Linked DNA regions of Homo sapiens. The protein of the gene in region 1 purifies or fractionates together with the protein of each later gene. This does not show direct contact. Each region holds a gene or a part of one and is shown on either strand. Other genes may lie near its edges. The genes, in order: PCK2, PRCC, BPIFB1, GAP43, ZMYM2, PAG1 and SLC35A1.

Region 1 (4,318 bases):
CTTAGTGGAGATCTGGGCCAGCTTCCCACTGGCATTCGAGATTTTGTAGAGCACAGTGCCCGCCTGTGCCAACCAGAGGGCATCCACATCTGTGATGGAACTGAGGCTGAGAATACTGCCACACTGACCCTGCTGGAGCAGCAGGGCCTCATCCGAAAGCTCCCCAAGTACAATAACTGGTAAGCCTTGGGCTCCACAACCTGCAGGATAGGTGCACTGAGGCCACTTTGGGTTCACCAAGGCAAAATCAACTTAACTAGAACATCCCAATGGAATGAACAAGAATGAGAGCTTTGGGGTAAACAGACCCAGAAACTGGGATTTGCTTACGCCTATAATCCCAGCACTTTGAGAGGCCAAGGCGGGTGGATCACCAGGTGTCGGGAGTTTGGGACCAGCCTGACCAACATGGAGAAACCCCGTCTCTACTGAAAAAAAAAAAAAAAAATACAAAAATTAGCCCAGCATGGCAGCGCATGCCTGTAATCCCAGCTACTTGGGAGGGTGAGGCAGGAGAATCACTTAAACCCAAGAGGCGGAGGTTGCAGTGAGCCAAGATCGCGTCATTGCACTCCAGCCTGGGCAATAAGAGCGAAACTCTGTCTCAAAAAAAAAAAAGAAAGAAACTGGGATTTTTTTTTTTTTTTGAGATGGAGTCTCACTGTATCACCCAGGCTGGAGTGCAGTGGCATGATTTCAGCTCACAACAACCTCTGCCTCCGGGGAATTGTCTCAAGCAATTCTCCTGCCTCAGCCTCCGGAGTAGCTGGGATTACAAGCATGCGCCACCACACCCAGCTGATTTTTGTATTTTTAGTAGAGACAGGGTTTCACCATGTTGGCCAGGTTGGTCTCAAACTCCTAACCTCAAGTGATCCACCCACCTCAGCCTCCCAAAGTGCTGGGATTACAGGCATGAGCCACTGCGCCCAGCCTAGTTTGTAGTTTGTATTTTATTTTAATGTTAAATGAAGAAGCTGATATAAATAAGATCCTTTGCTTTTTTTTTTTTTCCTCACCAGTTCAGGGAGCTTTTGCCAGGGGCAGAGACCCCCAGAGGGCTGGGACCTTGGGGAACACCCCTTAGATGGGACAAAGCCTGGAGGAAGGGACTGAGATGTGATTGGGTGGGGAAACATAAGGCCAACAGAAGACCTGGAGTCAAAGTTGGACTTGAAAAAGTGGGTCTAGGGACAAGGGAAACCTGCTGGCCACCATCTTCCTGACAATCCCCTCTCCCCCAGCTGGCTGGCCCGCACAGACCCCAAGGATGTGGCACGAGTAGAGAGCAAGACGGTGATTGTAACTCCTTCTCAGCGGGACACGGTACCACTCCCGCCTGGTGGGGCCCGTGGGCAGCTGGGCAACTGGATGTCCCCAGCTGATTTCCAGCGAGCTGTGGATGAGAGGTTTCCAGGCTGCATGCAGGGTAACCAGGGCAGGGGCACAGTGGCAAGGGCACGGAAGATGTGAACAGGTTTGGAACCCTTCATCCAGGGGATGCCTTCCTCCACAGGCCGCACCATGTATGTGCTTCCATTCAGCATGGGTCCTGTGGGCTCCCCGCTGTCCCGCATCGGGGTGCAGCTCACTGACTCAGCCTATGTGGTGGCAAGCATGCGTATTATGACCCGACTGGGGACACCTGTGCTTCAGGCCCTGGGAGATGGTGACTTTGTCAAGTGTCTGCACTCCGTGGGCCAGCCCCTGACAGGACAAGGTAAGCACCTGCTCTGCCCCAAGGGGAACACAGAGGCCTTCTTGTACTCAGAGGAAATCCCAAATCCTACCTCTCCACAGACCCTAAGAACCTGTCCTCTCTGGCAACCTAATTCCCAAGATCCAGAGCAGCAGTCCCAGCAGAGGGATAAGGCTGTGTTTGCAGAGCACTTTGCACTAGGTTGAGAAAAATCCGTGTCCAAGAATAGGGGCATGGAAGCTGATGGTTATTATGAGGTGGGGGGCTTCAGCCACCTCTTGGTGCTGCTACTGCTCCCAAGTGTCTCTCCTGCCAATCCCTGATCCCTCTGGCCCCGACACCCCAGTTCCTGATGCTGCTGCCAGCAGCCCCATGACCCCATTGTCCCCAGGGGAGCCAGTGAGCCAGTGGCCGTGCAACCCAGAGAAAACCCTGATTGGCCACGTGCCCGACCAGCGGGAGATCATCTCCTTCGGCAGCGGCTATGGTGGCAACTCCCTGCTGGGCAAGAAGTGCTTTGCCCTACGCATCGCCTCTCGGCTGGCCCGGGATGAGGGCTGGCTGGCAGAGCACATGCTGGTGAGGGCCTGGTGAGAAGCAGGGCAGCTGCCGGGGACAGGGCAGGGGTGGGGCCTGGCCAGTCTGCCTCAGCCTCACCTCCCTCCTGCCAGGTGCCAGGCTGGTGGGCGGGGACTCTACTTGAAGGCCCAAAGCTTTGGCCTCAGGCTGCTGAATGTTGAGGTTTCCCCTGCCACTAACCCAGGCCTGATGGCAGGGCAATCACTTATATAGTTAATAAACATTGGTCCTCCCTATTAGACCCTAGCTGCCCTTCCCCATGCAGACCATGCCCTGACTTTTGGTGACCTCTTTCTTATTCCCTCTCTCCCCAATGCACAGATCCTGGGCATCACCAGCCCTGCAGGGAAGAAGCGCTATGTGGCAGCCGCCTTCCCTAGTGCCTGTGGCAAGACCAACCTGGCTATGATGCGGCCTGCACTGCCAGGCTGGAAAGTGGAGTGTGTGGGGGATGATATTGCTTGGATGAGGTTTGACAGTGAAGGTGAGGGACTCTCAGATCATACTCTTGGTTCTGGCTCTTGTCAGAGCCTCGGGGTCTCCTCTCTAGTGTTCACAATGACTTTGTCAGTGAGAAAGTTTCCTGAACACCCAACCCTGCTCCATTCCTCTGGCAGCCCAGCCACCCGAGAGACAGCCTTTCCTCATCAGATCTTGGGTCCATCTCAGGACAGGGGTGGGTGGAGCAGGACCTTCTTTGGTCTTACATCTCAAGTTTTCCTTGTTTGGTCCTTCCTTTCTTTCACTTCTCCTAACAGGTCGACTCCGGGCCATCAACCCTGAGAACGGCTTCTTTGGGGTTGCCCCTGGTACCTCTGCCACCACCAATCCCAACGCCATGGCTACAATCCAGAGTAACACTATTTTTACCAATGTGGCTGAGACCAGTGATGGTGGCGTGTACTGGGAGGGCATTGACCAGCCTCTTCCACCTGGTGTTACTGTGACCTCCTGGCTGGGCAAACCCTGGAAACCTGGTATGTGCGGTGGGGAAGGTGTGGCACAGCCTCCAGGCCTCAGCACCTTAATGGTGGAAAAGCTTTCTCCACAACCTCCAACCATCTTCTAGGACTGCCAGGAGGCACAGAAGTCATGAACGTTTGCAGTTTCCAGTCCCAGGCAAAATCTCAGTTCATGTCCCAACTCCACCAGTCACTGGTTTTGTGATCTGGCTAAGTTGCTCAACTTCCCTAAGCTTTAGTTTCCACATCAGTTGAATGAGGGTAGTTGTGATAGTACCTATCTCATGAGATTGTTGGAGGATTAAATAGTGCATAAAAAGGGTTTATCACACTGACAAATACACAGTAAATTCTCAATAATAAATACAGGCTGGATTTTTTTTTAATGAAAGGAAAAGGAAGGACTTTTGAACATTCTTACAGAAGGTATTGGGCTCCAAGCACTATCCATAAAGTTTGGCCCATTAGGAAAAGAGGAAAGCTGCCTCCTCTGCTCCAACTCTCCTCCTGCCACTTGGCTCCCACTGTCCCCTGTATAATAACCACTGTCTAAAGGTCAGTATTGTTACCGTCACCCTTCCCCTGTCCCTCCAAAGCATTCACCCCAATCCTTCCTACAAACAAAATCAGGTCAGTGCTTGAGTCTTTCCCAGAAGCTAGTTTCTGAATCCTGTCATTACCCTGGGCGCCTGGGAGTCCCACCTCTCCCTCAGCCCTGCACTCTGGACCTTCAGTATTCTTTCCATGGCCTTCTGCAGTCAGGCAGTCCAGACACCAAGAGGCAGGGGCAAAGAAGAGCATGGGAGGGGAGGCTGGCCTTGTAGTCACTGAAGCCTATATTCAGGTTTGCCAGGCTGGCCTAGCAGTCACCCTCCTTGCTTCATCTAATCACCCTTTATTTTTACTAACACCATCATTAAGCCCCCCTCAGCCTTCCCACCCAACTGAGAAATCCAAGAAACTTTCATCTTTCCCCACAGGCTAGTTCCCCAACCCTTTCATCATCTCCAGATTTGGGGGCATAACTAGGGCATCTTGTCCCCAGCTTCAATTCCCAGAATAATACCCTGTGTTAGGA
Region 2 (4,291 bases), on another chromosome or scaffold:
TTTCAGGAATTTATATTTTTCAGAAGCTTTCCTAGTGATGCTTATGCACATTAAAGTTTGAGCACAGATTGCTCTAAGGAGCCTTCATGGAGAAGGCAGCATGGAGTTTGTCTCTGAAGGGTGGAGAGGTTGGGGAGGAGGTGCCCCATATCAGGCTCGTCTGATAGAGGATTCAAGCTTGGGCCTTTCACTGTCTCTCTGCATTGTGGTCATCATTGTCCCTCCTCATCAACCTTTCCAATTTTCTCTTCAGCCTCCTCCCAAAACCTCAACAGCCTTTTCTCTGGCTTCGCTCAACAGAATTTTCTGCAATCTGGGAACAGGGAGGTGGTGCCCACACAGAGATGAATTAGCATGTAAAGGACACACACATACAGGGCAGACAAGTAGAGGGCACTCAGTCACAGGCAGACAGGAAGGGGGCAGAGATGGGTAAACAAGAAAAGGATACAAAATCACAAGCGGACAGGGAAGGACTGGCGCACAGCAGATCATCACAAGCAGACATAAATGGGCTGGACAAGGACTCCTATAAACATGGATGGAAAGGAAGGGCACTTACAGAGACAGATGTAAGAAAGTCACATACAAAGCCATAAGAAGCAGCACTCACAGACGTAAAGGAATGTAAAGGACATCTGCAAATGGATAGGTGGGAGGCACAGCCAGGTAGGACGGACTCAAGTGATTCCTCAGAACGGTCGCCCTTTACCCCACTGAGCTGAGAAGGGATTAACCTCAAGTACCTGGCCCGGATTGTCAGAGCCTTGCCCATCTTTGTCTCACTGGTTGCTGCAGAGGGAGGCCAGGCCCCAGGCTCCAGGGTAAGGTGTGTTCCTGGATGTGCACCCCGATCCTGGTGAGGGAGATCACCTCCTCCCTTTTACGTCACATTTATTTCAACTCTTAGATGCTTATTATTAGACCTGCAGCCTCGCTTCTTTCTGGCTTGCAGCCCAATTTCGTACGGGTCCCTTGGGCCCTTGCTCTTTTTGGGATGTTTTATTCTAATTCCCAGTCCCAGCCGACTGGGAAGCTTCACCAGTTCATTTACAGATCACTTTGCCTTTAAGCAATTTTCCTCAATCCGCCAGCTTCCCAGACTCCCTTTCGTTCCCGACATCACTTGCAGTTTCTAAGAGCATCATATCTCCCAGAAATCTTAGTGGCCAAGGGGCTACCCTAGGGAACTTCAAGTACCGAAATGCTCTCCTGTCCGTCTCAGTGACTGCCGTGGTGACCGGTGGGGCTTGTAGTCACCTCGGAATTGTTAGGCGACGAAAAAAACTACTCACCCCAGGTGTCCCTGCGTCAGAGGCGGGTTTCTCTCCTGTCTCCCTTTGCTCGCCCCTAAATCCTTCCTCGGACTCCAACTCCCGCCGTGCCTTGCGCTGAGATCCCTGCGGCAAAGAACCGGGCTGTGTCCAAAGTGTTCTCTGGAAGTTGTAGTTCCTGTATTGGTGAGGCAAGGAGGAGGCGGAGTGACTCGGCGGCCATTAGCTGTGTGTAGTTGCCCGGGACTAGGAGCTTAAGTGAAGAGGTACGCCTTGTTCGGTGGAAATCAGCCGTAGCCATGAGTTTCTGCCGGGGCTAGCCCTAGAGTACGGAGCAGGCGGACTTTTCGGTTCCCCGCCCCGCCAGGTGGCGGGGCCTACTAGGCCTCCGGGCATCCCCGGTCTCAAGTAGGCCTCATCTGCCGGCAAGGGCGCCCGAAACGCGGGAGGCGCCATGTCGCTGGTTGCTTACGCCAGCAGCGATGAGAGCGAGCCGGATGAGGCTGAGCCCGAGCCGGAGGAAGAGGAGGCGGTGGCTCCTACATCTGGGCCCGCTTTAGGGGGCTTGTTCGCTTCTCTCCCTGCGCCCAAGGGTCCGGCCTTGCTGCCTCCGCCCCCTCAGATGCTGGCGCCAGCCTTTCCCCCGCCGCTGTTGCTTCCCCCACCCACCGGAGACCCCAGGCTTCAGCCTCCTCCCCCCTTGCCCTTCGGCCTGGGAGGCTTCCCCCCACCTCCAGGCGTGAGCCCGGCTGAAGCGGCGGGAGTTGGGGAGGGACTGGGATTGGGGTTGCCCTCGCCCCGAGGCCCTGGCCTCAATCTGCCCCCTCCAATTGGCGGTGCCGGTCCCCCGCTGGGGCTTCCCAAGCCAAAGAAGAGGAAAGAGCCCGTGAAGATCGCGGCGCCGGAGTTGCATAAGGGAGATGTGAGTATCCGGGGAAGGCACCCCCAAACTGTCCATCGGGTTTGAGTCGGCTGTAGGAGGGACATGTGGAGATTTCAGAACTCCTTCCTACAAACGCATCCGTGGATTCAAGGCCACTGGAATCCTCTTATAATGCGATTAATTGAGCTGAAGTTGGTCAACTTGGGGGAGTTTGGGTGTTTGCCCATGTGGGTTTCCTGAAGCTGGGCTTGCCTGCAGAAGGCCACATGTCATCATCACCTGGTACTGACAGGCCTAGGGACACTTGGATCCGCTCCCCCTTCTTTGCATCTTCACTTCAGTCCGGCTTTTTCCCCTTTCCTCCTACTGAGAACAGGATGAAATCTGGCACCTGAAGAATGACAGGAGACAGGGCTCCTGAACCTTTGCCGAACATCTGGGACAAATCTTTTCCTTGCCTCTGAACTCAAAAGCATCAGGCCTGGAGGAAAATGATAGCAATCTTGGTTTCTATTTTTGAGGGGAGTTAGAGGAGAAATCGAATATTTGTTTAGTGCAGATCATTTGCCGTTCATTGGTCCTTTCTTTCAATTATTACAGAGCTCTGGGAGGTAACATACTATTGTTTTACAGATGAGAAACAGGTGTCCAGCATGCACGATTTTACCTGGTAACAGGGCAGAGTGAAGATTAAGATTAAGGTTCAGTCTCTCTGAACCTCAGATCTGTGCCTCATATTCATCATTTAGCTATGGTCAAAGCTAGGTGAGTTAGGATGCTTGGGTACTGTTTCTAGAAGAGGCAGCGAGTCTTACCTGTTTCTATATGTGACAGTGGAAAAATACAAGGCTCCTGGAGTGAGGGCTTTGGAGATAAAGGAGAGATTAAGCCTTGGAGCAGGAACTGCTTAGAATTACTTACCGGAGAGAAATTTATTGCCCTTGCTTTTCTTCAGACTCCCAGCTCTGCCTAGGAGCCATTTCCATTCGTTGAACTTGCTGTTCCTTAAATTTCTTCTCTCAGATATCCTAATGTTCTCTCCCTCACCTCACTTGGCCTAAAAGGCCTGTTTTCGGTGAGGACTTCCCTAGCCTACTATGTATTTAAATTGCAACCTCCTATCACCTCCTCCTCCCCATTGCTCTTTGTTTTATTTTTCTCCATTGCACTTAACATCATCTGTCCTCCCACTAGTATATAAACTCCATGAAGGCAGGGATTAAAAAAAAAATTCACTGCTATAACCCTAGTACTTAAAACAGTGCCTGGCACATACTGAATACTCCCATGGATATTTTGTGAGTGAAAGAACTCCAATATGGATTTTTCATGGAAGGAGTTTCCAGAGTTTCCCTCCCAATCTTGTTTGAAACTTTCTTCCTTTTTTTTTTAAATTTTTTTTATTTTTATTTTTTTTGAGACGGAGTCTCCCTCTGTAGCCCAGGCTGCAGTGCAGTGGCACGATCTCTGCTCACTGCAAGCTCCGCCTCCCGGGTTCACGCCATTCTCCTGCCTCAGCCTCTCGAGTAGCTGGGACTACAGGCGCCCGCCGCCACGCCTGGCTAATTTTTTTGTGTTTTTAGTAGAGACGGGGTTTCACCATGTTAGCCAGGATGGTCTCGATCTCCTGACCTCGTGATCCACCCGCCTCAGCCTCCCAAAGTGCTGGGATTACAGGCGTGAGCCGCAGCACCCGGCCACTTTCTTCCATTTTATTTCCCCCTTCTTTCACACCTGAGAGTCTCTCATCCTAAGTCTAGGATCCAAAAAAAAAAAGCCTTTTATTGCTCCATGGAAACTTACTTTGGCTTTGATTTAACCTGGAACAAGGAAAGATCCCTGAATGAGACAAATAAAAACAGTCTACATGGACATGGAAAGCTCATTTCTAGCTCTGTGAAGGTAGCATTATAGAAAGTTGGGAGAGGCCGTAGAATCTGCCATTTGGGTTGGCTGAGGTGGCAGAAAACTCTGAAGACTAACACTCCCTCCTTTGTAAGCATTCACTAAATTTCTGAGGTGAACAGTAACATGGCTAATTAAAGTCCTAGCCCTTGCTGGTTGAGTTTCCCATTTTTGTTCTGTTCAAGTTGGTCTTTTGGTTCTCGGAACACATAATTCCTGCAGAAAGGTA
Region 3 (4,318 bases), on another chromosome or scaffold:
AAAAATGGAATATGAAAACTTCCTGAGCTGGGCCACCTACACACTAGGGTAAGGGAGTGAGGGCTCTATGAATAGTGGCTGCTTTCGTCGTCGTCATCGTCATCATTATCATTCCCCACAGCAAGCCTAGACTGTCATCTGTTAAATGGGGAGTGGAGGCAAGTACTATCTCATTTAACAGATGAGGCAGGTGAGGCCCAGAGAGGTCAAACCCTTTGCCAAGGTCCCAGAGCCAGGAACTGAGATTCAGACCCCAGAGCCTCCCTGCATAACCCCTAATTCCACACTCGGATCCTCTTGAGAACAATGGGGCCTGGGCTTCTCTTGTTGCAGGAAGCCAGCTCGGAAGCTCAGTTTTACACCAAAGGTGACCAACTTATACTCAACTTGAATAACATCAGGTAAACACACAAATCATCATGAAGATTCTGCTGATGGAAATGAGTCCCGCCTGGTAACCATGGGTTTCTTTAAACACCGACTTTGTGGCTGTCAGGTGAAGGCGGCTCCAGGGTAGGCAGGGAGGTCCTTCCGGATGCTCCTGCTGACAAGGACTGCATGTGAGGGAATGGGGAGGAAAATGAAGTAGGCCTTGCAGCAGCCACGGCACAGGCAAACCCTAGCCGCGGCCAGCCCACTCTGGACACCTCCCAGGCCGTGGCAGTGACAGTCACCCGGCACAGAAGTGCAGGGCTCCAGCTGCCTCCTGCACCCTGCCTGTTCTCCCTCCCCGCCACTTTCCTGTGGCCCCAGAGTGAGTGCAGGGGCTGCCAGCTGGAGCCTCTGGGGACAAGTCAGGCCCAGGGCTCTTTTGATCAGCCCACATAGGGCTGGGCTGTTTAATATAAATGAGTTGTGCACATATCAAATCAGACTATCTGGCTGCCCTGTGCCCACAATCCTACATAGCAACAAACTGTCGAGCCAGGAATTGGGGCGCCCTTTGAAGGAGCTTGGGCCTCCTTGTCCACCACAGCCCTGACTCCTGAGGTTGATTTTTCTGCTCACTGGACTGCTATTTGTTTTCTGTGCCCCCTCTATGCCCCCCACCCCACCCCTGCCATTAGAATGCAAGCTCCACGACGCAAGGGCTTCATGTGGTTCACTGGAGCCCGCACTGTGCCTGGCACATAATAGGTGCTCAATAAATCGCTGTTGAATGAGTGGATGGTGAATGAGTGGGACTTCAGGGGCCGCTCTCACAGGCATCTTCCATTGCAGCTCTGATCGGATCCAGCTGATGAACTCTGGGATTGGCTGGTTCCAAGTAAGTGTTAACAGGTGGTGCCTGAGGGCACAGGGGGTGGCCTGGAATGGTCCACTCTCAAAACAGATATTGCCCAGGATTTGCTTCAAACAAGGTCCCCACAGAAGCACCATGGGGGGCTGGCCGGTCTCCACCAAAGTCCAACTTCCCTCGAGTGTTTACAGAGAAGCCACCACGTGTCAGACACAGCTGAGAACACACACACGCACACACAAATACACTCACAGATACACACTTTCTTTCAGTGAAGTTTTGATCCTGAATTAGAACACAAGTGCCCTTGACTCACAATCTCATTCTGCACACGTAGACGCGCCTCAGTGCCCCTAGACAGCCCTTTCCTGCTGGGATTCAGACCGAACCCCAATACCTCAGTCTGGCGTGTTTTCTCTGGTTTTTATGATTTGTTTTTCACTATTTTTGACTTTTTTTTTTTTTTTTTTTGAGATGGAGTCTCGCTCTGTCGCCCAGGCTGGAGAGCAGTGGTGTGATCTTGGCTCACTGCAACCTCCATCTCCCGGGTTCAAGCAATTCTCCTGCCTCAGCCTCCTGAGTAGCTGGGACTACAGGCGCCCACCACCACGCCCGGCTAATTTTTTGTACTTTTAGTAGAGACAGGGTTTCACCATGTTAGCCAAGATGGTCTCGATCTCCTGACCTCATGATCTGCCCGCCTTGGCCTCCCAAAGTGCTGGGATTACAGGCATGAGCCACCATGCCCGGTGACTAATATTTTAAAACACGGAGAGTTCCACATGCAAATCAGGACTTCTGGCTTCCCTCCAGAAGTCAGAAGTTCAGGCAATGCAGGGCAAAATTCCCTCAGGGCAAATTCAGCTGCAACAGAGTGGTGGGGCCCCTGAGGATGGGGCATCCTCCAATGCACCCCAATCCCCCCATCTACCAGGCCCCAGGGGCGGCTGAGTTCATGCCCCAACCCAGCCCATCTGGTCCCTGGGAGCCCCCACAGCTCTGATCAGCAGGGGACCTGGAATTCCTACATCTCCACCAGCCACCTCACCCATGGGGAGGAGCCACACCCACGAAGAATGATGGGGGGGAACTTCAGATGCTCAACCAGGGTGACAGTGCCCCTTCTCTCTCTCACAGCCTGATGTTCTGAAAAACATCATCACTGAGATCATCCACTCCATCCTGCTGCCGAACCAGAATGGTGCATACCTCTGCCATCTGTGCCCCCTCTCTCCCCAGGGCTTGGCTTTACTTCCCCTGCCCTCATCTCCATGAATGGGGCCCCTTTCATTCATCTCCCAGCCATCCCTCAGAGCCTACTTCAAAATCTGCCTCCTCCCAAGAACCTTCTCAGCCCAATTCCTTTGCTAGTGCCAGAGGCTGGGCTCGTAAAGATGAACCAAGCAGTGGGCCAGACTTGCAGGGCTGGAAGGAGACAGAGGCATAAGCAGACAATGAGAGCAATGACAGAGGTGTAAGAGACAACTGGAGGCGCCTCAGCAGACCCTGTTCCCCCTCTTGCTAGTGCCTGGCCTTGGTCAAGCTGCACAATCCTTCTGAGCCTCAGTTTCTCCATCTGTAAAATGGGGACGTAGAAGTACCTTCTTCAGAGGCACAAATCAGGAGGTGCCTGGCACAGTCAGTGCCCAACACTCTAATTCAGCCCCAGGTTGAATGAGGGGTGGGAAGGGTTTGTAACCTATACAGTTCCACCTTTTTAATTTCTTTATTTTATTAGACTGGAAAAATCTCAAAGTATAGAAACCTCTGCTGGGGATAATGGGAGCCCCTGATGGTTCTTGAGCAAGAGCGTAAGAGAATGTGAGGACTGCATTTTGTGAGGGGCCAGAAGCCAGTGCCAGAGGCAAAGGGAGGGTAGACGAGGCTGGGTCAATGCTGGGGCCAGAGAACAGGCGAGCAGAGGCAGAGGGGGCTGTCTGATCAGGCCTGCCAGGCCGGGGCTCCCCTTCAGGAACCCTGAGCCTGCCCCTGGCTGCCCAGTCTCACCCCAGGCCCATCAGTTTCTGACCACATTTGTTATTTCAGGCAAATTAAGATCTGGGGTCCCAGTGTCATTGGTGAAGGCCTTGGGATTCGAGGCAGCTGAGTCCTCACTGACCAAGGTGAGTGGGTGTGGCCCTAAACATCCTGCCCCAGGGAGGGCACAGCCACTGAGAGCCCTGGCTGGGAGGTGGGGCCTGCACTCCAACCCCAGCCTACAGGTGACCCTGGGCAAGTCCCTTCCCCTCTCAGGGCCTCACCTCCTCATCTGCAAGTGAGAAGGTTGGCTGTGCTGAGGATGGAACCCTCCTAGCCTGGGGTCAGTACACTTTTTCCACCCCCTTGTCATTCATTCATTCATTCATTCATTCAGTAATTCACTAAATATTTTTCGAGGGTCTTCTATAGGCAAGCCATGCTTCTGAGTGCTTGAGGCCACCGAAATGAACAAATGGAAAACACTCCCATCTTTTTCAAGCCTACCTTTTAGCAGAAGAGGCAGATACACAAGCCCTAAAGATGTAACATCAGGCTGAGTGGAGGAAGGCTGAGAAGAAAAATAAAGCAGGCTCAGGAGGAGAGAGTGATGTCAGGGAAGGGGGTGCTGTTTCAGATGGGGTGGCCAGGGAGGGCCTCTCTGAGGAGGTAACATTTGAGCCAATGCCTGAGGAGGTGAGGGGTGAGCCCTGTGGGTAGCTGGGAGAAGTGTCCCGTCAGAGGGACAGCGTATTAGGCCGTTCTCACACTGCTATAAAGAAATACCTGAGGCTGGGCTCAGTGGCTTGTGCCTATAATCCCAGCACTTTGGGAGGCCAAGGTGGGCAGATCACCTGAGGTCAAGAGTTCGAGACCAGCCTGGCCGACATGGCAAAACCCAGTCTCTACTAAAAATACAAAAATTAGCTGGGCGTGATGGCGGGTACCTGTAATCCCAGCTACTCGGAAGGCTGAGGCAGAAGAATTGCTTGAACCCAGGAGGCGGAGGTTGCAGTGACCTGAGATCACGCCATTGCACTCCAGCCTGGGCAACAAGAGTGAAATCCATCCCCCCCCCAAAAAAAAAAGGAAAGAAAATAA
Region 4 (4,987 bases), on another chromosome or scaffold:
TAATCATAAATATGAAAACTAGGAAGCAAACTGAGAAGAATGAAAGACCAAATCAGCGGATCTGAAGCAGGCCACTCTCAGGAAGACTCCTGAGGAATAATTAAGGCTAATTTTAAATATCACCTCCTGGGTATCATCATCACCATCGTTCCCAGGTACCTGTCTGAGATAGTCCATTTTGAAATAGATATACCTTAAATTATGTTAAAATGTACTAAGCACTTATTGAGCTCAGTGATCCTGAAATATGCCTAACAATAAGCTGCCTAGTTGCCACTTATTAGCTAGGTTTATGTCTAGGAGGTCTAGGAGGGACTATGAAGAATATGAGCTGTTTAATTAGGGGTACTTGTCATCACTAATGAACAACAAGAAATAGTTTGAAAACTTCTTTGAGATATTCACTTGCAAATGTCACCCGAATTTCAGAAAAGTACAGTCTCTGGAGTAAAGCTATTATACACTCAGAGAGACTGTTGTGCTTTGCATGCGTTATATCATTTAGTCCTCAAAACATGTTGTCAAGATTGGCATTATTATCTCCATTTTAAAGATGAGAAAATTAGGTGCAAAGAGCTTCAGTAACACACTCAAACTCATTCAACAATAAATAACTAAAAATTGTGCTATACACACTTTAAGAGTCACATGTTCCTCCCCCAAAATTATGAAAGGCCATAGAAGGAATTCAAGAAGTAGGCTTCATGACTTATCGTTTCTTCTCATCTCAGATGAATTCACTTTAATCTCTCATGCCCAAATTGTAAAATATCATTTTGATCACCGTCAATATTACACAGACCTGTTTGAATGTGCTCAGCTTTTTCAGTAAAATTAGAAGAAACCACAATTTACAAACAGGTATATGTGCATTAAGGAAAAAACAAAAAACTACCATGTGATTTTAGATATGGATGCCAATTCTTAAACATTGTTTATTATTTCTGAGCTCAAGTGCTTAGAATGTTTAAAATGCAATATATTTATGTGGATTTTTTTCCAGGATATTGGAACATATATAAAATATGCTTGTGCATATCTAAGCTTTGTATTTATTTCAGGTTATATGTATACTGAGAAGAATATATAAACAGTGTATGATATTTACATGTTATTTCATTTTTTGAGGGAAATTAACCTCCACAATTATTAACTATGCATAAAATGTAATGGCAGATATGACTTATATTGTATAGGACTGACTACAATTCCTCTTTAGAAATAGCTGTTCTTTGCTTTTATAATACTAGGAAAAGAGGAAAAGAGTTCTTAAAGAAATACAAGGATTCCTCAAGCCCCTCTTCCCTAAAACATGCTCTATCATATCTCCTGGATTGACTGGAATATCCTTCTCTGCCCCCACCCCATCACCCTCTCAATGCAGTGGAAAAGTCGGTGGGTAATTGGGTCCAGATTGGAGGTGTTTAAATATTCATGAGGCTGGCAGGGGACTGGGAGGGGGCGACTGTCTAGAATGGGGGTAGGGGCTGGGGGAAGTGATTAGTCACTGAAGGCTAGAGAACAATTCCGAGAAAGAGACGGAGAGAGAGGGAAGAAAAAGACAGATAGATAGATATTGGGGGGAAGGAGAAAAAAGGAGAAGAGAGGGAAGAGAGGACAGCGGAGAGAGAGCACCAGAGAGAGAGGGAGAGAGAGAGAGAGCGCTAGAGAGAGGGAGCGAGCATGTGCGATGAGCAATAGCTGTGGACCTTACAGTTGCTGCTAACTGCCCTGGTGTGTGTGAGGGAGAGAGAGGGAGGGAGGGAGAGAGAGCGCGCTAGCGCGAGAGAGCGAGTGAGCAAGCGAGCAGAAAAGAGGTGGAGAGGGGGGGAATAAGAAAGAGAGAGAAGGAAAGGAGAGAAGGCAGGAAGAAGGCAAGGGACGAGACAACCATGCTGTGCTGTATGAGAAGAACCAAACAGGTAGAGCTAAAGATTTTTTACTTCTTGCTGTTGTGAAATAACCCGAGTACAGTATTTCCCCGTAAAGGCAAACAATTTTTTTACTGCTTCTGCTCTGGCCGTGGTGCTCGCGCTTCCTTAGCATATGGTAACTGATGGTTGCATCCCAGCTTTTATTCTTTTCTGTCTTTCATGCTCTGGTTTTGGAATGCTGCTACTAATTAGGGTGAGGGTAGAAAAAACATGCCTGTTTGGCTAGAAATAATTTTTTTTTTTCTTATTAGTGAATGCTCAGCATTTGAGGTCTCTGGTCTTGAGGGTGTGGACGTAGAAAGGGGTGTGGGGGAGATGATGTGGGCTCTACCTACAAGATGGGGAGGCATTTCTTTATATTATTTGCAAAAAAGCAGGGTTGAGGAAATAATATTCAGAACTGAGTATTGCCTCTCTGTCATACAATTTTCTCACATGTGCTGCGGAAGATGCCTTATTTCGTGCATGCATGAGCTTCGAAGGGGCGCAGGTATTTATGGAAAAACGTGCAGGTCTTATTTATTTAGTATTTATTTTTCAATGAATGAATGAAACTGTGATTTGATAGATTTTTTTTTTTTTTAAGAGAAGCTAAGACAACTGGGGCTGGGGGAGAAATTGGCCATGCAGAAGGAGAAAATCCCCTTCCTAAGATCAGCAGCCGATTGTGCACCAGCTGGTCGGAGGAGAGGGTGGACCACGCCCCTAGGAGCTCCGATGGGATGGGAAAGACAGCCGGGTATTACCTGTTGGAAACCAGGTCTTTTCTCTTATCCCCTTCCCTTGCTTCTTTCCTGGGATTGTCAGTGACCAGAGACAGGCTAACATCCTGGATAATAAGTATGGTGACTCATTTTCATCAGGAAGAGGGACACATCCAAGATTAGCAAGAATCAGAGCCCCTCCTTCCCTCCCCCACTGCCCAGGTTTTACAGCCATTTCCAATTGCTCGCTTATTTCTTGAAAGACATTTTAGAAACTTGATTGGGGTGAGAGTGGGAAGGAATGACGAGTGTGGTATTCCGCAGCAACCGACCATGCCATGGCAGTCTCCAAAAGAAGCTTTCAAACATTTGTTGGAATGCATTTGAGTGATTTTGGCAAAGGTTAAAGAGAAAAATGGGTGTGGGATACGGGTGAGTGTGTGCGTATGCTTGACTGTGGTGGGGGTGGGGGTGTGGTGGGGGCAATCTTGGTCAAAGAAGCCCTTCGCAGACTGATTGCCTTAGGGGTGGGGTGCAAGAGATGGAATTTGGGTATAATTTCCAGTGCAGGTATTGGAAATTGGGCAATTTGTAATACACTCCCTGAATCCGAAGGGGGTGGAAGAGAGTGGAGAAGAAACAGCCTGCCAGCTTAGCACATTTAGCCAGCGCCCTGGAAGGAAGGGTGGGGAGTGAGGATGAAGGAGAAGGAGCAGGAAGAGGATGGGAGACTGAAGCAGAATGTCAGAGCAGTGGGAGTAGAGATTTGGCATAAATAAATAAATAAATAAATAAGCAGACATCCTGGATTGTGTGGGGCTATTTGGGGGAAAAAGTCGGATAGTGGGGGATTGAGTTGGGGGCGGTATTTGCAGCATCTCCTGAAACTGCCCTATGGTTACAGAGATTGATGCTTCCATTGGCTCATTTTATCAAACCAGGGCATTTTCTCTCTGTGTCCTCCTTCATTTTAATATATAAATGTAATAAATACAGGTGTCTGGGTTAAGAACACTGTCAAAGAAAAGTCCTGAGGTTATTTCACTGGTGAGCTGGGGAAATAACATTTAGGAAGGTGGAGCACTAAGTAAGCCAAAGCCATCCACTTAAAAAGCTTTAATTTTGGAAAGAAAAATATTCAGGTTCATAATTTGTTCCCACCCTATGTGTACATATGCAAGTATACATACATCTCCTTTAATAAAGGAAATCATGTATGATTTTTAGAAAAGGAATTAGGGCTAAAGGAATTCCCTTCCCAAAATGAAGACAGCTGCCTTCCCTGGGGCTCTATCTCACCAACAGCCCCAAGCATTCACTCTGATGTGCAAAGTGATGAAGCTGAAATTGTGTTTAGAGTTGTAGAAATTCGCATGTAAATGTATACAGCATCCACATACTTCATATGCTACAGTTGCATGTGTAAGTGGTTTCCACATGCCTCTCTGTGTTTTAGCATCATTTATATTCAAGAGAAAATTAAAGGTATAGAAATTGTCCTACTTTGCTCATGCATTTTATAAATGTGTACTTCTGTGTGAAATGGTCATGTCTCTTATAAACCACTGTTGTGTATCATTCACATTAGCCAGTATTTAGGATACCATTCAATCAGACTAAAGGAAATGGTGTATTCAGGGCGTGGGCTCACACTACACTGACTGGCATTTATGTAGCATGAGTACTTAAGTCTCACGCAGGTTGCCTGCTTGTGGATGAAATTCTGTATCATTTATGACAAAATCCAGTGGTGCCCATCCTTCTGCTGGCATCTATTCATCATCGTAGTACTTAACAGGGAATAAAACAAGGGCAAAAACCTGCAAAGGTCTAAGCTCTGCCACACCCATAAAATCCAGCAGAAACGTGGGAGGGGGGCTGAAGGGCTTGCACTTCCTTCCTCTTCCACTTGAGCGGCATAAAGAAGCAACCTTGGATTTCTAAGTTGGAATACATTGCCAGTGGGTGAGAAGAAAGCATAAATGATCTCTATTAGCCATTAGTTATCACTATAGATTATTATAGCAGGAAGAAGAGAATGAGAGTGGGGTAGAGATGAGAATATGGTAAAGGAGTGGGCAAAGGAGGAATAAAATAAAATAATCCCTAATATTGTATTGCCTTATGATTTTCAAATATCTTGGGGCTTACTTTAAATAGCTTAATTGCCATGTGTATTGCAGATGATTAAAAACTTGGCAAGGTGTGATTTATGTCTACAAAGCAAGAAAACTATGAGGTGTTTCTTTTGTTGAAAAATAATGACTTTAGTTTGTAATTGAAGTGTAAAGAATTTCATGCAAGCAAGTAGTCCCTCTACTCCCCAGCCCCCCATCCATGCCAATATCT
Region 5 (3,500 bases), on another chromosome or scaffold:
CGTCAGTGGAAGATGATGATGATGTTGTTTTTATCGAACCTGTACAACCTCCCCCACCTTCTGTACCAGTGGTAGCTGATCAAAGAACCATAACATTTACATCATCAAAAAATGAAGAACTACAAGGAAATGATTCCAAAATTACTCCTTCCTCAAAAGAGTTGGCATCTCAGAAGGGAAGTGTAAGTGAGACAATTGTCATTGATGATGAAGAGGACATGGAAACAAATCAAGGGCAAGAGAAAAATTCCTCCAATTTTATTGAACGAAGACCTCCTGAGACTAAAAACAGAACCAATGATGTGGATTTCTCCACTTCCAGTTTTTCAAGAAGTAAGGTAAATGCAGGAATGGGTAATAGTGGTATCACCACAGAACCAGACTCTGAAATTCAGATTGCTAATGTTACAACTTTAGAAACAGGTGTAAGCTCTGTGAATGATGGCCAATTAGAAAATACTGACGGGCGAGATATGAACTTAATGATTACACATGTAACATCACTGCAGAATACCAACTTGGGAGATGTCTCTAACGGACTGCAGTCAAGTAATTTTGGTGTTAATATACAAACATACACCCCATCTTTAACTTCACAGACCAAGACTGGAGTAGGACCTTTTAATCCTGGTAGAATGAATGTGGCAGGAGACGTTTTTCAGAATGGAGAATCTGCAACTCATCATAATCCTGGTAAGCAGTAAGAGATACTCTACTTCATGTAAATGAATTTAAACTTTTGGCTGCTGCTTTTTTCATTGTAGTAACTGGTATTACCTTGTTTAGTTTCATCATGTGAAATATGTGAATTATATTGAATTTTATCTTAAGTTTGGTATTTTAATAAGAATTGTAAAACCATGTATAGTATTTTTCTGTGGATTACTAAAAAGTTAATCATAAAGTAGTTTTATATTTAAAGGATTTAAGAAAAAAATACTCTTTACATTCATCACCAAAGTCTGATAATTTGGCCGGGCACGGCGGCTCACACCTGTAATCCCAGCACTTTGGGAGGCCAAGGTGGGTGGATTGCTTGAGCCCAGGAGTTCGAGACCAGTCTAGGCCACATAGCGAGACGCCATCTCTAAATTTAAAAAGCAAAACAAACAAAAGAATGAAGTGTGATAATTTAATATCTTGTTTGTCATGCATTACTTTTTGCTAATAGAATTTTTACTAGTGTTTTAGTATATAAATTAGAGAACCAAAAGATTAATATAATAGCACACTTAAAGAACAGTGTAATATTGTACAGTAGTTGCATTTAGATTTTTTTTTGAGATGGAGTCTTGCTCTGTCACCCAGGCTGGAGTGCAGTGGCGCAATCTTGGCTCACTGCAATCTCCGCCTCCTGTGTTCAAGCGATTCTCCTCCCTCAGCCTTTCAAGCAGCTGGGATTATAGGCGTCCACCACCACGCATGGCTAATTTTTGTATTTTGTATGGGGTTTTATCATGTTGGCCAGGCCAGGCTGGTCTCAAACTCCTGACCTCAGGTGATCTGCCCACCTCAGCCTCCCAAAATGCTGGGATTACAGGCGTGAGTCACTGCACCTGGCCGCATTTAGATTTATTTCTACTTTCCCTGTGCTTATTTAATTTAATTAATTAGTTAATTTTTTGGGACAGGGTCTCTCTCTGTCGCCCAGAGTGGAGTAGAGTGGCACAATCTCAGCTCACTGCAACCTCGACTTCTTGAGCTCAGGTGATCCTTCCATCGCAGCCTCCAGAGTAGCTGGGACCACAGGTGTGAGCCACCATGCCTGGCTAAATTAAAAAAAAAAAAAAAAATTATTTGTAGAGACGGAGTCTTACTGTGTTGCCCAGGCTGGTCTTATACTCCTGGGCTCAAACATTCCTTCTGCCTTGGCCTCCTAAAGTACTGGGATTCTAGGTATGAGCCACCATGCCCAGCCATTTTATTTTTTATTAAGAGTTGGCTAAGGTTTTATTTTTCTCACATTTGAAGAAAGCCAAACATATCATCCTTTTTTTCTTTTCTAAAACTACTTTAAAGTTATGATTGACATGCAAAAGGCTGTATATATTTAATGTCTACAACTCGATAATGCCGTGTTTATTTTTGACCACGTATCTTTAGCTTTTAGTTAGCATTTTACTACTAAAAAATTTTTAAAAATTATTTTTATTTTTCAAGGGCATAAATAAGCAATACTTTTTTTTCTTATTTATTTGTTTATTGACAGAGTCTTGCTGTATCGCCCAGGCTGGAGTGCAGTGGTGCAATCTCGGCTGACTGCAGCCTCTGCCTCCCTAGTAGCTGGAATTATAAATGTGTGCCACCATACCCAGCTAATTTTTGTATTTTTAGTAGAGACGGGGTTTCACCATGTTGGCCAGATTGGTCTTGAACTCGTGGCCTCAAGTGATCCATCTGCCTTGGCCTCTCAAAGTTCTGGGATTACAGGTGTGAGCCACTGTACCCAGCCCCCCACCTTTTTTTTTGAAGGTTGATAGTTTTCTTGACTATTTGAAATTGTTTTCTGTGAGCAGCCTTGTTCTGTGAAAACTTTAAAATATGGAAGTGATAAGAACTCTGTGCCAGCCTGGACAACGTGGTGAAAAAATACAAAATACTGAAAATATGAAAAGTTAGCTAGGCATAGTGGTGCACACCTGTGGTCCCAGCTACTTGGGGGGCTGAGGTGGGAGGATTCCTTGAGCCCCATAGGCAGAGGTTGCAGTGAGCCAGGATTGCACCACTGTATTCCAGCCTGGGTGACAAAGTGAGACCCTGTCTCAAAAACAAAACAAACTCTGTGACTTTTTCATGACATGTCTGTGGATGTCTCTCTCTCTCTTTAACCTCTCCCCCAATTCCTCTGTGTGTGTGTGTCTATCGGCGTTTCTCTCTCACATGCCTCTCTCTGACCCATTCTGTCATCATTTTAGGCTCATTATCCTAGGGATTGTGGAGAATAATGTGAAGTAACTAAAATCTAGGCAATGTAGAATGCTATATGAATTGCTAGTTATTTTTCTTATTTGTCGAGTAATGTCTGATTATTGAAGACTGCTTAGAAAATCTATAATTTAAAACAAGAGCTGGTGCCAAGCATGGTGGCTCATGCCTGTCATCCCAGCACTTTGGGAGACCAAGGCAGGAGGATCACTTGAGCTCAGGAGTTTCAGACCAGCCTCTGGGCAACAGAGCAAGACCTTGTCTCTACTAAAGATAAAAAAAAAACTAGCCAGGGCTGGTTGCGGTGGCTCAAGCCTGTAATCTCAGCATTTTGGGAGGTCAAGGTGGACGGATCATCTGAGGTCAGGAGTTTGAGACCAGCCTGGCCAACATGGTGAAACCCCATCTCAACTAAAATACAAAAATTAGTGGGGCATGGTGGTGCATGCCAGCTGCTCGGGAGGCTGAGGCACGATAATTTGTTGAACCTGGGAGGCGGAGGTTGCAGTGAGCAGAGATTGCACCACTGCACTCCAGCCTGGGCGACAGACTGAGACTCTGTCTCAAAAAACAAA
Region 6 (4,318 bases), on another chromosome or scaffold:
GTCTTTAATTCCCAGAACTCCTATATATTTTACCTTCTTGTCCCAGATGGGATCACTTTGGCTGCAGAGTAGAAAACAGAGTGGAGGGAGGCCAAGGAGCTGCCAGGGATCAGCAGGAGGGGACTGCTCTGGCCTAGGGAGGGGCGGCCGCAGTGGGCTTGAGGGAGGTGGGTACACAAAGAAAACAGTTTGGAGGTGCAACTGATGGGTCTTGGCAATTGACTGTGTTGGAGGACAGTGAGGAAAAGGAAGTATCGAGATGACCCCTAGGTTTTGGTCTGTGCAACCAGATAGACAGATGGCAGGTCCATTCTGGAGGTAGAAACATGGACGAGGGTGGGCAATATCACCTAGGGAAAGCATTTTTGCTCTTTGAACATTCAACGTGGGTGTCTATGTCCATATTCTAATGCTTTACTCAGAGTCCTATAGGAAGTGATGTACCTGCATATGTACTTTGCTCTTGTACATGTACACAATTTACTCTGCTAGGAATTCCAGATAGAAGCTATATACAGCTAGATCAATTAAGGTGTTTAGCTCTCTGAGCATAGCTCAACATTTATATATATACATATGAAATATGTATATATACACATATTTCATATTATATGTATAATACTGGCTTTAACAATTTTAATGCTTCATTGAAAATCTAACTCGTGAATTTTGCACCCTGGTGCTTGGGAATATGCGATCTGCTCTTGTTGGCTGCTATGTCTGACCCTAGCTCCTGCCTGGAACTGTACTTACTGAAGTTAATCTGCTCTCAGCATCCAAATTTCCCCACGGAGACTTCCTCTTTCTGTCTCCCAGGCTGGAGCAAATTCCCTACACTCACCTGTTCTAATTTCCTGAATTTTCCAACCCATGATTCATTTCCTTCTGATGTGGTCTTCCTGACTGCTGACTGCTCCCACGCTGGAATTTTTCTCTTCTCACTCTTCTCCCCTGCCCTCTCTATTTTTCCTGACCCTGCTTTCCTGCTCAGTTTCTTTTCCTGAGCTGACTACTTGTCCTGCCATCCTTCTTGTCTGGCCTGCCCGTCAGTCTCTCCAAGCCATTATAAAACCAGCATCCCAAGTCTTCATCTCCAAACATAGGCATAGGAGAATATTTCAGCTCTTTCAAAGGGTAACATTACAGTGCATTTATTCAAGGGGGGAAGGTCTATTCTTTACTACAGTTTTCCCTTTTTAAAAAGAAACAAAACTTACCTCTTCTTCTGTGAGAGTGGGGTCTTCTTCCCGAGACTTGTATGACAATGAGCTAAATCTCTGTCAGAACAAACACAAGCCAAGGAAAGTAATTCAGCGTTAACAATCTAACCTTTCTTTTGCACATGTTTCCTCATAATCTGTCTAGCAACGTTTTCAAATGATTTTTATGGAACCACGAAGAAATTATGGGAAGAGAAACACTTATGCAATCTATTACCACATGTATGATGTTCGGGGATATCTAGTAGTATTATCCTTAGAGAAATTTCCTCTAATTTTGTATTTGCATCTGTAGGTACAAAGAAGCCAAAATAATTATTTAGACTACTGTTTCAATTCCTAATTGTCACTGAAGGATTGATCATCCATGGAGGATTAATATTTAAAAACATGGTGTTTCTTTATCAAATGCCTGAATTTTATACTTCTACAGTTTGCTGGCGTCATCAGAAAGATCCTTAAGTCATTTGGAAACTTCAAAGCTAATGGAGAAACTGACTCACATTTTGTGTCTTGCCCCCTGCCTGATTTCTGAAGGATTTTGGCTCTTGGTTTACTGATTCTCTAACACATCCCTTGTCTTAATTTTTGGTGACCTCAACAAACGTGTACCCTTCTAAATCCCGCCCTTCAGTTCCTTGACTTTCCCTTCCCCCACTGATTTTATGCTCTATCTGTGTCCCCTCTCCATGTCCACCCCCGGCCTCAGCACCCTCATGGCTGCACCCCAGGCCTTTCTAAACCACAGCCTCTCCACCAGCCCAAGTCCTTGCAACCCCTTTCAGACCAGCGCTCGTTGTCAAAGCTCACTCCTTCTGTAACCCAGTTCCAATGCTCCTTCAACACCATTGGGACCCATTCATGCTTTCAAAGTCTGCCCTTCTCCTTGGTGTCCTGTACTGCTTTACTAAGCTTAAGCTCCATAGTCAACTGCCAATCATACGTGAACTCAACCCTCTAGTGAGCCCTTAAAGCCGCTCCGTATCATCCGATGCTTCCCCAGTATACTCAGTCTCTGCTCAACTCACAGTCTACTTTGCATCTTCTCCTCTTCTCCCCAGACTTCCAACACCTCCTCACCTATCTTCACTCTGAGCAGATGATCTTGCTTCCTAGTTGGCTAAGAAAACTGAAGGAATCAGAAGAAATTTGTATCAACTCTTAGCCCCACCCTCAGCCTCTGCGTTAATCTATTTTCTTTCCTCCCTGTCAAATGGATTTTCCATGTTCCTCCTTCAGGTGATCCCCTCCTTCCTACACACTAGACCCTGTCTCCACATACCTATGTGTGAATACTGAGCCAGGAATTCTCCCAGTGTGGGATCATTCCCAGCCACATGCAAACATGCTGTTGTTTCTCTCATTCTAAAACCAAAACAAACCTAGTCCTACTCCGAAATTCTACCTACTCATTATCTCACTTCCTTTTTTTTTTTTTTTTTTTTTTTGACAGCGTCTCACTCTGCCATTCAGGCTGGGATGCAGTGGCGTGATCTTGGCTCACTGCAGCCTTGACCTCCCAGGCTCAAGCCATTGTCCCACCTCAGCCTCCCAAGTAGCTGGGACTACAGGTGCATACCACCATGCCCAGTTAATTTTTGTATTTTTTGTAGAGACGGGGTGCTGCTACATTGCCCAGGCTGGTTTCAAACACCTGGTTTCAAGTGATCCACCCACCTCGGCCTCCCAAAGTGTTACGATTACAGGCATGAGTCACTGCGCCCAGCCTGTCTCACTTCTTTATAGCAAAATCTTTTAAAGAGTGGTCTAAAAAGTCAACCGAACAATTTTTCTCTTCCTATTCTCTTTCTAATCCATTTCAGTCATGTTTCTGCCTCTACCATTCCACAGAGACTGCTCTTGTCAAGGGCACCAATGAGACTCGCCTTCCCTGACCTACCCGCTGCATTTGGCAGAGCGGCCCGCCACTCCTTCCTTCCTGGACACGTTCTTCACTGCCTTCCAGGACTCCACAACTTTCCTGTTTTTGTTTCCTACTTTGGTCTCTTCTGCTGGTTCCTTTTCCAGATCTCTATTCTTGGAGCTCTTCCAGGCTCTATTTACACTCACCTATCCTGTGACCTCACCCAATCTCATGACTTTTAAAACCACATTCTGTGGATGACTCCCACATCAGCAAATCCAGCCCTGGCCTTTCCTCTTTACCCGGCTCATCAATCCAGCTACCATCTGATAAGCTCTACTTGGAAGTCCAATCGGTATCTCAAGTTGAACGTACCCAACACTGACTGCTGGTTCTCCCCCCAAAACCTGCTCTGCCTGTATCCTCTTCATTTCAGTTAATGGCAATTCAATCTTTCCCACATGTTGGGCCCAGCCTCGTACTCATCACTGCCTCTTCTTTATCTCACTAAGCGTAGGATCCATCCGCAAATCTCTTGGCTCTGGCTTAGCTTTTCTCATCACCTCTGCTGCCTCTTCCCTGATCCAGGCCACCGCCATTTCTAATCTGGTTTATTAGAGTCACTACCCAATTGTTCTCCTCACTTCTACCCTTTATTTCAAAACTGGAGTCAGAGGGATCCTTTGAAAACATAGGCTAGGTTGTGCCATTCTGCTGCTCGGGACTCTAGTGACATTATTAGTGTTCAGACTATAAGCCAAGGCCATCCAGGATCGAGCTCTGGTTCTCTTTCTCCTCACTGCTGTCCTTGCTCTTCCCTCTCCACCCACAGCAGTCCCCTCCTCTTCCCTTAAAAAGCCAGTTGCAAGCTCTAGCTTCAGGGGCCTCACACTGGGCATCCCCTCTGCTTCACGTGCTCTTTCCACAAAAGCACAAACCTCACCCCCTTGGATCCTTTAACTCAAACGTCACCTTCATAGCTGGGCAGACCCTGACCACTCTATCCAAAACTGTACTCCCCACCTGTTTTCTCAGTTCCCCTTATTCGGTTCTATTTTTTTCTCTTATAAACTTTAAACTTTATGTCTGTCTCTTCCCACTAAGATGTAAGTTCCACAGGGCAGGGATTTTGTTCATGTACATGTTTTGTTTCCAGGACTAGAAGACTGTGTGGCACACAGCAGGTGCTTATTAAGATCTTTTGTTAAATAAATGAATGAATATTAAATACTTC
Region 7 (4,318 bases), on another chromosome or scaffold:
GAACTTGATGAAATAGTTAAAGTAGCAGGGGATGAATTTTTTTATAGGTAATATCAACAGTTTTCCTAATCTCATTATTCAATATACTCAGAATCTCTCAGAGCTTTGACTAGAGATAGTGGTAAATCTAGTTGTTGTCATATTTTCCCAAACAGAACTATAATTTTTTAAAGAGGATACATTATTGGTATGTTTCTTTTAATCTAAAACTAGTTAGAAATTATTAGTTTGCTAAATTACAGCAAGCATAGTATGCTTGTCCTGTGTTTGAAGAAGTCTTATTAAAATAATACTCTTTAATTTTCTTCCTTACCACCCTCTCATCTCCCCCTTTTGTTTTCAAAGAGAAACTGGTAGTCTGGGTAGATTCAAAGCATCTTTAAGAGAAAATGTCTTGGGGAGCCCCAAGGAACTGTTGAAGTTAAGTGTGCCATCGTTAGTGTATGCTGTTCAGAACAACATGGCTTTCCTAGCTCTTAGCAATCTGGATGCAGCAGTGTACCAGGTAAGTGGAGTTAATGATAATGAAAAGCACAGAATCTTTTATGGTAAAAAGAGTTTTTATTAACTCTTTATCATATTATCAATTTTTTTTTTTTTTTTGAGATGGAGTCTCGCTCTTTCGTCTAGGCTGGAGTGCAGTGACGTGATCTCAGCTCACTGCAATCTCCGCCGCCCAGGTTCAAGCGATTCTCCTGCCTCAGCCTCCCGCGTAGCTGGGACTATAGGCACATGCCACCACACCCAGCTAATTTTTTGTATTTTTAGTAGAGATGAGGTTTCACTATGTTGGCCATGATGGTCTTGATCTCCAGACCTCGTGATCCACCACCCGCCTCGGCCTCCCAAAGTTCTGGGATTACAGGTGTGAGCCACCGTGCCCGGCCATTATCAAATATTTTTTATTGATAATTTTATCAATGATACCAGAAATAATATATTTGTATCAGAGACTAACATTAACTGAATTTATTAATTCATTCTCTTTTTTTTAGGTGACCTACCAGTTGAAGATTCCGTGTACTGCTTTATGCACTGTTTTAATGTTAAACCGGACACTCAGCAAATTACAGTGGGTTTCAGTTTTTATGCTGTGTGCTGGAGTTACGCTTGTACAGTGGAAACCAGCCCAAGCTACAAAAGTGGTGGTAAGAAACAAAATGCACACCATAACTTCCCATAAATAGAAAACTTCCTTAAGTCTTATACTGTTCAGTTACATTGATGCATGCAGCATGACTACATTTCTTTGATTTAAAATAACTTTTGCCTTATAGATAGGCCTTTTTTCTTTAGCATATTATTAGGGATAATAATACTTATTGGTTGTTTCTCAGAGGAGAATATGCATAAAATATGTTACAGATGGAACATACCTTAGAAATAATGTGTTCCATCCCCTCCATTTTATGGATGACAGTCCCCAAAGAGGTGAAGGAACTTGTCCTAAATTAGTTAATAGCTAACTTGTGACCACAACTGTGCCAGTTTCCATACTGTATATGTTTAGAACTTCTAGACCTCTTTCAAACATCTCAGAAACACTGGGCAAGGTTTTTCTGCATCTAGTTTTCATCTTCTCTCTCAACTGTCAGTCTCTGGCACATCTCCCTACTGTCAGTGATCAGGATGACAAGGGAAGGAGTGTTCTTACTGATAATTGATAATTATCTTTAGTTTTTAAGAGTTAATGTGAAGGTACATAACAGATTTTTAAAGAGTTAACGCTAAGATACATACATGATTTTTTTTCTTACATTGTATGCCTCAATCAGTTATTTCCCCAAAGAGAAACAGGAAATGGGATGCCAGTGAATAGTTTTGTGAAGGTCAGGAGTTTCCTACAGTTGAATATTTACTCTAACTTTTAGCAAACAGACTATGGTTCTCTTAGGAATGGAAGGCGGCTGGGATGTACAGTGCTTGTGAACAGTATCATATCCCCACCCTCCAGGTCCCCTCCTTCCCCAATTAAAACCCTACTGTTTCTTTCTATAATATGGTTTCTAGACAGACTTCCTGATCCCTGCCTTCTGCCCCTACACTTTTCCTTATATTTTTCTCCTAGATGCATTCATCTGTCATTATTTCTCAATATATCCTAAAACCCCACTGTCTCCCAATGTTGTCTAAGTAATACGAGGCACAGTTTGGTAATTACCCCTTTGTTCTGAATACCGGAGACTTGTTATACAGTCATGCATCGCTTAACAAAGAATGTAAGTTCAGGGTTCTGAGAGATGCATCATTAGGTGATTTCACTGTTGTGCAAACATCATGGAGTATACTTACACAAATCTAGATGGTATAGACTACTTACTACACATCTAGGCTGTACAGTATATAGCCTATTGTTCCTAGGCTACAAACTTCTGCAGCATGTTACTGTGCTGAATACTGTAGCGAGTTGTAACACAGTGGTAAGTTTAGCGTACCTAAACATAGAAAAGGCACAAATATAGTTTTATCTTACAGGACCGCTGTTTTATATGTGGTTCATCATGGACTGAAATGTCATTATGTGGTACATGACTGTTAATTTCTGGGGGGCAGGCAAAGTATCTATTTTACAATTGATCATAAACCACTACATGTAACTGTGTCACCCAAATAGTTTGTCTCAAATGTATCTTGTATCCCTCTCACCCCACTGTTCCCTCAATCTGTCTGCACTGCCATGCACTCCTCCACTACTGGTTAAGTGGGTTCCAAGTGTCAGGACTGGAATAGACTCTCATTGACACTAGAACTCAAACTCTGGCTTATTCTAAACCAGAATGCAGGTTGAGTTTGTATTTATTAAGCTCTTCTTGTTAGCTTTGGGTCATTGCTCAGCCCCTTGAGTTATTTCCAGTTCTTACCCATTATTAGCTTCTCCTTTGGGTATTACGCTTTCCAGAGTCAAAAAAAATATGCCTTCTGGGTCTTTAATGAAAATTTTAGGTAGAACAGGACCAGAGTTCTGTGGCTGTACCTTTAGAATTCTCTCTAGCTTGATCTTTTTCTTGCTTACTGAACATATCATCTCTCATAGTTTTTATGGGTCAGGAATTTGAGGGTGCCTTAGCTAGCTGGTTCTGGCTTGAGGTTGCAGTCAAGATACTGGCTAGGGCTGCAGTCAACTGAAGACTTGACTACGGCTGGAGGATCTGTTTCTAACGTGGCTTATCTATATGCCTGGCAAGTTGGTATTGGTTGATGGCCTAGCTTGATTTTGTTCAATTAACTACCATTTTTCTGTATGAGCATTCACACACTTACGGATTGTACCTTTATCCTCACTACAGTTCTGTGTTGTCTATAAAAATATTATGTGGCTGGTCGCAGATCACCAGGTGAGGAGTTCGAGACCAGCCTGGCTAACATGGTGAAACCCCGTCTGTACTAAAAATACAAAAACTTAGCTGGGCGTGGTGGCAGGCGCCTGTAATCCTAGCTACTCAGGAGGCTGAGGCAGGAGAATCGCTTGAACCTGGGAGGCAGAGGTTGCAGTGAGCCGAGATCGCGCCACTGCACACCAGCTCGAGTGATAGTGCGAGACTCTGTTTCAATAATAATAATAATAACAATAATATGCAAGTCTGTCACATTTTTTGCCAAACATTATCTCTATGGAATTCCCCTCATCACTTAACATTAGGAGTCCTTTCAGTAAGGAAATCTGGTATGTTTCACACTTGGTGAAGTCACACTATTTTCCACTGATGACCATTAAGCTTTTTAAGTACAAGTCATCTCTAAATCTGTTCTAACATTTTGCTGGTAATCAATGTAACAATAACAGCTGCAATCATTTATAATGCACTAAATACTAGCATTATCTAAATGCTTTATATACACTAACTCACCTACTTTTCTTGATAGTCTTTTAAATTTATTTAGCTAGGTAGTCTAGGCGGGGAGAATTGCTTGAGCCCAGGAGTTCAAGACCAGCCTGGGTAATATAGTGAGACCATGTCTCTACAAAAAAATTTAAAACTTAGCTAGATGTGGTGATGCATGCCTGTAGTCCCAGCTACTTGGGAAGCTGAGGTGGGAGGATCACTTGAGCCGAGGAGGTTGAGGCTGTAGTGAACCATGATTATACCACAAGATCCTGTCTCAAAAAGAAAAAAAAAAAAAAAAGCTTTCTTTAATGCCTTACAGGATTTTTTGCAAGCCTCCACTTATTCTGAGTTTTCGATTTCTTGATACTATTCTTAAATTCCTGGTTAGATTCCTCTTGGTGATCTGTACTTCGGCTTTGTTCTTGTAAAATCAGAATTCAGTGAAGATGCCCTTATTTAGATATGTTGATTTCCTTATGTATTCTTTTTTT

Evidence for each region.
Region 2: the proteins of PCK2 (region 1) and PRCC purify together in Homo sapiens (affinity purification with mass spectrometry; one large-scale study listed by BioGRID and IntAct). This does not show direct contact.
Region 3: the proteins of PCK2 (region 1) and BPIFB1 purify together in Homo sapiens (affinity purification with mass spectrometry; 2 studies listed by BioGRID and IntAct, with this or other methods). This does not show direct contact.
Region 4: the proteins of PCK2 (region 1) and GAP43 purify together in Homo sapiens (affinity purification with mass spectrometry; 2 studies listed by BioGRID and IntAct, with this or other methods). This does not show direct contact.
Region 5: the proteins of PCK2 (region 1) and ZMYM2 purify together in Homo sapiens (affinity purification with mass spectrometry; 2 studies listed by BioGRID and IntAct, with this or other methods). This does not show direct contact.
Region 6: the proteins of PCK2 (region 1) and PAG1 purify together in Homo sapiens (affinity purification with mass spectrometry; one large-scale study listed by BioGRID and IntAct). This does not show direct contact.
Region 7: the proteins of PCK2 (region 1) and SLC35A1 fractionate together in Homo sapiens (co-fractionation; one large-scale study listed by BioGRID). This does not show direct contact.

The regions. Positions count from the first base shown.
Region 1 is NC_000014.9:24,096,959-24,101,276, forward strand, and holds part of PCK2 (phosphoenolpyruvate carboxykinase [GTP], mitochondrial isoform 1 precursor), read left to right. Parts: coding exon 1-179; intron 180-1,244; coding exon 1,245-1,429; intron 1,430-1,516; coding exon 1,517-1,720; intron 1,721-2,090; coding exon 2,091-2,278; intron 2,279-2,599; coding exon 2,600-2,762; intron 2,763-3,036; coding exon 3,037-3,255; coding exon of another isoform or gene 3,256-3,347; exon of another isoform or gene 3,348-3,795; intron 3,796-4,318. UniProt on the Homo sapiens protein: Mitochondrial phosphoenolpyruvate carboxykinase that catalyzes the conversion of oxaloacetate (OAA) to phosphoenolpyruvate (PEP), the rate-limiting step in the metabolic pathway that produces glucose from lactate and other precursors derived from the citric acid cycle.
Region 2 is NC_000001.11:156,766,044-156,770,334, forward strand, and holds the start of PRCC (proline-rich protein PRCC), read left to right. Parts: upstream 1-1,491; 5' UTR 1,492-1,728; coding exon 1,729-2,196; intron 2,197-4,291. UniProt on the Homo sapiens protein: May regulate cell cycle progression through interaction with MAD2L2.
Region 3 is NC_000020.11:33,303,625-33,307,942, forward strand, and holds part of BPIFB1 (BPI fold-containing family B member 1 precursor), read left to right. Parts: intron 1-333; coding exon 334-401; intron 402-1,221; coding exon 1,222-1,267; intron 1,268-2,377; coding exon 2,378-2,441; intron 2,442-3,286; coding exon 3,287-3,363; intron 3,364-4,318. UniProt on the Homo sapiens protein: May play a role in innate immunity in mouth, nose and lungs. Binds bacterial lipopolysaccharide (LPS) and modulates the cellular responses to LPS.
Region 4 is NC_000003.12:115,621,798-115,626,784, forward strand, and holds the start of GAP43 (neuromodulin), read left to right. Parts: upstream 1-1,712; 5' UTR 1,713-1,892; coding exon 1,893-1,922; intron 1,923-4,987. UniProt on the Homo sapiens protein: This protein is associated with nerve growth. It is a major component of the motile 'growth cones' that form the tips of elongating axons. Plays a role in axonal and dendritic filopodia induction.
Region 5 is NC_000013.11:19,993,227-19,996,726, forward strand, and holds part of ZMYM2 (zinc finger MYM-type protein 2), read left to right. Parts: coding exon 1-693; intron 694-3,500. UniProt on the Homo sapiens protein: Involved in the negative regulation of transcription.
Region 6 is NC_000008.11:80,979,218-80,983,535, forward strand, and holds part of PAG1 (phosphoprotein associated with glycosphingolipid-enriched microdomains 1), read right to left. Parts: intron 1,278-4,318; coding exon 1,218-1,277; intron 1-1,217. UniProt on the Homo sapiens protein: Negatively regulates TCR (T-cell antigen receptor)-mediated signaling in T-cells and FCER1 (high affinity immunoglobulin epsilon receptor)-mediated signaling in mast cells.
Region 7 is NC_000006.12:87,500,163-87,504,480, forward strand, and holds part of SLC35A1 (CMP-sialic acid transporter), read left to right. Parts: intron 1-345; coding exon 346-505; intron 506-995; coding exon 996-1,148; intron 1,149-4,318. UniProt on the Homo sapiens protein: Transports CMP-sialic acid from the cytosol into the Golgi apparatus, functioning as an antiporter that exchanges CMP-sialic acid for CMP. Binds both CMP-sialic acid and free CMP, but has higher affinity for free CMP.